Linked DNA regions of Homo sapiens: region 2 is linked to region 1. The links come from fine-mapping of genetic effects on gene expression. A gene starts in region 1. The other region holds a variant in brackets. All regions are shown on one strand. Distances are from middle to middle. Region 1 holds the start of TREM1 (triggering receptor expressed on myeloid cells 1). Region 2 has its middle 20 kb from the start of NCR2.

What was found.
Region 2: its variant is fine-mapped to the expression of TREM1 in B cells (Schmiedel 2018, PIP 0.95).

What each region holds. Positions count from the first base shown.
Region 1 is chr6:41,285,275-41,288,193 of GRCh38, reverse strand. TREM1 (triggering receptor expressed on myeloid cells 1) reads left to right here and starts at 1,512. Exons shown (of 4, transcript NM_018643.5): 1 at 1,512-1,587. The coding sequence starts at 1,539.
Region 2 is chr6:41,314,106-41,317,024 of GRCh38, reverse strand. No RefSeq gene overlaps it. Among named protein-coding and RNA genes, the nearest start is that of NCR2, 20 kb to the left of the region's middle. The variant A/C (reference allele first, on the strand shown) is at 1,571.

The DNA.
Region 1 (2,919 bases):
CAGCAAAAGGAGGGGCCAGCAGATTTCAGTTCAAGCATGTTTGAAGCCTGTTTTCCGACATTATTTGTAGAACAAAAAATAAACATAGTAAAATCTCCACTACAAATGATCTCTATAAAGTGTAATAACATGATTTAAGTTTATGTATTATTTTCTATATTTTATAAATTGCTGCATTGAACAGCTTTAATAAAAAAAATTAAAGTTAGCCTTGAAAATTTTTTTGGTTGTTGTTTGTTTTAATTTACAGACATGATAGTACCTTTTAGCTGTTCCTATACTTGAGTAGCAATCAATTTGGGTGTAAAATATTAGGGTCATAATGTTCTTTATACCTCATCCCACTCTCTCATGGTATTTGTTACTCAGAGAAGAAATCTGAGTCCTGATTATTTCAATTCCTTTGAAGAAACCAAGTTATTTTTTTGTTTATTTAGCAGTAGGAATCTTTTTATTTAAATTTAAAAATTTTCACCTGGAAACTTCCTATTCTAGGTCTCACTTTGTGAATTTTTTCCTTGCCCATGTTGAACTCTCAACCTCCAATTTTAGATTTCTTCTCAGACCTGGAAAGCATATTTTTTAAGATAAAATTTTTAATCTTGCTTGTGATCCACCATTCCATTTTATGCTTTAAGGACATCTCTGATTTGTAGATTGGAATTCTGTGATTTGTCCTCCCTTAAATTTCTGAGCTCTTCTAAATGTCTTTATTCATTTCACATTTGGGAATATTTCTGAAGTGAATCCTCTCCATTATTGATTTGATTTTCACACTGTCAAATCTGTCTTTTCTTGCTTCTAGTACAAAACCTGCTGGATTTTTTCTTCTTGCTTCAGCGTCTTGAACCAAGTTTCCTTTTTAAATCTAAGTCTGTTCTTGTTGGGTGGTGGCAGTGTCCTCTCAAATTGTTTCTGGGGTCCCTACACCCCCGTGAGCTCCCAGGCCATGTCTGTGGCAATGCTGAAGGACAAATGCAGGGTGTGGCCCTCCTGGTGATGAAGAGGAGGTGCACCCCAGGTCACCAGAAGCCAAGAGAACCCACGGGGCTGAGCAGGGCAGGATGAAGCAACATGTTCTCACAAAAACCCTGAAGATGAGATACGATTGTCGCAGCCTCTCCCTATGTGGGCCTGACTCTCTTCACTACACTAAACTGGATGTGAATGGAGAGGGGGCCTCTGGAGAGCAAAGGGCCCTCTGTTCCCCTTCCTAATATGAATGCCTTACTTTGATTTACATTCAAGTATCATTCTCCCTTAGATTTTGTAAGGTTGAAAGGTAATTGTCATTATTACCACAGAAAGGAAAACTGGAGTTCAAAGAAACTTAACTGAGAAGTGAGTCTTGGTCTCTGTATTATTGTGTTGATGTCAGGAGTCAGAGCAACTGGTGATGAAACAGAACCCAAACTCAGTGACTCCCAGGAATGGCCTCATATCCTGTTGTGCAACTTTCCGAAGCCTCTAGGTCATTGTGGTGCCTTGTAGCTGTCCCGGGAGCCCTCAGCAGCAGTTGGAGCTGGTGCACAGGAAGGATGAGGAAGACCAGGCTCTGGGGGCTGCTGTGGATGCTCTTTGTCTCAGGTAAGACAAGGAAGAGGACTGAGCAGGGGAGGCGTTTGGTCCAGGATCTCGGGGAGCCCTTTTCTGTTGAAGCTTCAGAGCACAGGGCCATCCAAGATAGAGCCAACCAGTAGTTATGGCAGACCGTGCTGCTCTACCCAGAATTGGGAGAACATGCAGTGTCTGCACACAAAAGTAAAAGAAGGAGAGAGTCAGGGAAAAAAGATGTCTGTGCATGTCGATGTTGTTAGAGACATGCAAAGCCTAGTATGGGAATAATGATAGAGTAGATCTCATCATGGCATGATCTACAATAAGTTTATTTGATGTTGAAATTTTTTTCTTATATTCCATCATGATGTGTTTGATGTTGACAATCTGTTAAACCCAAAAGACAGAATTGATTTAACAAATATTTCCCAGGGGTCTACTATGGGACAGCAAATATACTACTGCTGAGGACACAGACGTGACCAGAAGAGGCTGGTGCTCATTTTGGTGGAGGTGATCATCCCAGCTCTCCATGGCACGCTGGGGTTGGAGGGCACAGTTGCTGAGGCTCAGCAGAGCCGGCGCATGCCCCAGCTCTTTCTTGTGTCTCCTCTTACGATCCGCACAGCTCACATCTGCACCCAAACCAGAAGCATGCGGGCTTTATTCACTCCTCCTCCTAATCCTTATGAATAACAGGAGGAAAGTGTCAATATGAGTTAAAAGCGAGGCTTGCCTTGGGAAGGCATGAAAAATCAGGGAGAGGTATCCTCCTGGGCTCTCTACTTTGAGCAAAGTCATGGACAACTGCCTTGAAGAGCCTGTGCTCAGACATTGCTCTGGGTCTTCTTGGAGCTGGGGTGATAATCTAGATGGGCAGAAGGGAGTTAGCTCCTCATGGACAAGTGCATTTCCTTGTGTTTGATTCATGTTTTTCTGAAGGAGAACTGGGAGATGGCAGAGGGCTGAAGGTTATGTACCTGTGTGAGAGAAAACCAGTGGTATATATTTCATTGTGCCCTGTGGGGATAGGTTAGGGGTTAACCTCAATGCTCCTTGCAACTGGATACTTATTCACACTTGGGCCAGGACTTCTCTAATCCCTATCAGACTGTGTTGGACCATGTAGCTCAGTGCTTTAGGTGGAACCAGAGTCCTTGGGTTTGAATCCTGGCTCTAGTACTTAACTATGGTGAGACTTTGGGCAAATCACTTAATCTGTCTGTGCCTCAGTTTCCTTATCTATAAAATGGGGAGAATAATGGTGTCAACTTTTTACTTTATAAAGATTAAATAAGATAGTCTTTAAAAACCCTTAGCACATAATACTTAATAGGTAGTATTTGCTACCCTTTTAATTAA
Region 2 (2,919 bases), 29 kb before region 1:
TTGCATAGGTTCAATAAGAATCTGTTCTTATAACAAGACATAATTGGGTAAGTCCTTAACTTGGCCTCCTAGCCTAGAGAGGTTTTTAAAGGTCTAATCTGAGATTCCTTGTTAACAAATAGTAAAACAAACAATAAAATGAACAAATAACTAAGATTGACTTATACAAAGTCAATAAAGCCCCTTGGATATTATCAAAACTTTGACAAAATGATGTATTTTAAAAATATGCATACATAGAATCACTTTTCTTGTTGCACTTATGTAAATAATCAGATCAAGTTTAATGAGACTACTGATTTTGCACAAAAAGAAGAGTTAACCATGATTATTTTTGGAAAAATTTGGAATGACCATAAAAAAGATTGTATTTCAATAGAAAACTATAGCACCCATCATCAAATTCTGGTCTTTGTTATGTCCTTGTAAATTGGATTGAATCCTAACATTTTCTAGTTTCACTAGAAACTAAAACTGCTTTTTTCCGAAGCCCTGCCAGCTGAAATTGGATGACTTTAAATTCAGAAAAATTACTACAACAGACCATGTATGGAAAATTTTCATGCTGCTGCTGTGTGGGTCACTTGGAGAATTCACTGGAACACCTGATGATATTTCCAGAGACATTCAAACTGCAAGCCAGGAAAATCCATCAGGTTGCAATTGCCATCCTCATTCCATCATCTAAAAATGCTTCAAACTCAAATTTAGAAATCTTGACAGGCTGCTCTCTGGACTTAAAGACTAAGATCATAATTTGTTCCTAATGTTAACCTTTTTTTTTTCTTTTGTTTTTATAGAATGCTACCTTGAATTCCCTTCAAGCAATACTATCTGAAATAAACAATTTAACCTCAATAGTACTCCAAAATAGAAGTCCTTGATACCTTAGCAACTTAACAAGGAGGCTCTTATTTGTAAAAAAAAATATTGTTTCTATATTAATAAATTAGAAATTGTTGAGCCCAATTTAAAGGATCTTAAGGAACAAATATGTCTTTTATCAGACAGGTGTTGCCTCCTCCACTGATTTATTTTATTGGTGAAATATTGGCTCCTGGGAATCTGTGCTCCAGGGAATTTAAAAATCCTTGGCTATTATTCTCTCTGTAGTCATTTTGTTTACCATCCTACTATATCTTATCCTCTCAAGGATTTCAAAGCTTTCCAGAAGGCACTCACACATCAAATGATTGCCATCATCATTAATTGACTTGAAGAACTCAACAACCCTACCACTGAAGCCCATGATGCAGGTAATGATGCCATGTAATCTTATATCCCAATACAACTGTTGAGGATAAGATTACATGACTCTTTGTTCCAGTGACTATTTCACTAGTGGTAACTGAGAGGAATGCTACCACCTTCTTCTTAGCTTGCTGAGAGGGTGACCCAACGCGGTGGGATTGTTAAAGTAAATTAAAATGGAGACCAGACCTGAAGAATCCCAGAGGGGACAAAAGAAGTTATGATTTGTAAGTGACCTAAACCTTGCTTGATTTGCAAACATAACCAAACTTAACTTGAGCTATTTCTTGTGAATGCCTATATATATCTATATCTATAT[A/C]TATATTTTTAAAAGCAGAACTTAAGCTCAACCAATCAGAAGTTACTATTTATACAAACTTAGATAACGAGGGGCTTTCCAAGTTGAGAGACCAAAAAAAGCAATTGTATAACAGTAACCAATTAAATACTTTGCTTTACTTCTGTGTCTGTCTTATAAAAGTCTCCTCTTTGTGTTCCTCAGTGGAGCTCCCAAACTATTTCTGGTTCGGAGCTGCTCAGTTCATAAATTGTTCATGCTAAAAAAAACTCACCAAAACTCTTTAAAATTTTACTGTGCCTCAGTTTATCTTTTTAACAGTTCAAAAAAGATTAAAATAAATGATAATTATATTCTGTCCTGGAGAAGTAGGGAAAAAGTCATTCTTATGCATTGTTGGAAGGGAATAATTGATAGCCTTTTCTTGGAGAGCAGTGGTGTAATGAATTAAAAGTCAGAACAAGAAAAAACAAACAAACAAAAGCACATGTTTTGGAACCAGCATTTCTAAGTTTTGTTTTTTTTTTTCTCAGCAAGTATTTTGTTGAGCATCTTCCTAAAAAGTCATGCCTGCAGCCTTTTTTTGCCCTGTATGGATGCACTGCCTCCACCAGTTGGTACACAGCTGTCTCTTCCTCATGTTTCTGGGGCTTCTCTTTGTCTCCTCTACAACGTTTTCTTGATTCTTGGATCTTTGTTTACTCCTTTGTACTGGTGGAACCCATCCTTGAGTAACTACGGGAGAAAGGGGGAATGGAAAATACATTTTGACAACTTTTATATTTAAAAATGCCTGTTTTACCATGACAGTTTGACTGATATAAAAAATTCTGAGTTGGAAACAATTTGTCCTCAGGATTTTGAAGGCATTGCTATGTTACCTTCTTGCTCCTATTGTTGTTGAAAAGTCAGGAGCAATTATGATAACTATGGCAATATGTGATCTGTTGTCTTCACTTTATCAGCGTTTTCTTTTTGTTCTCGGTGTCCTGGAATGTCACAGGGATGAGCCTTGGAGTGTGTCTATTTCCATCCCTTTGCTCCGCACAGTGAGTGGCCTTTTCGATCTAGAAATTCACAGGAAAATTTCTTGAATTAGTTCATGCATGATTTTCCCCTCTCTGTTTTCTATGTTCTGTCTTTCTAGAACTCCTTTTATTCAAGCATTCACCTCCTGGATCAGTTGTCTTTTTCTTTTTTTTTCTCTCCCATTTCTCTGTTGTTCTCATTCTCTCTCTGCCTCCCTCTGTTTTGGAAACAGCCCTTGGAGAAAAAGTTTTCTGTTTTTATTTATGGTTCCTTAGGTGGTCTCTGTTTCTTCCCAGTTGCCTTCACTATTCTCTGTTTAGTTTCTTTCTTCTCTTTCACTT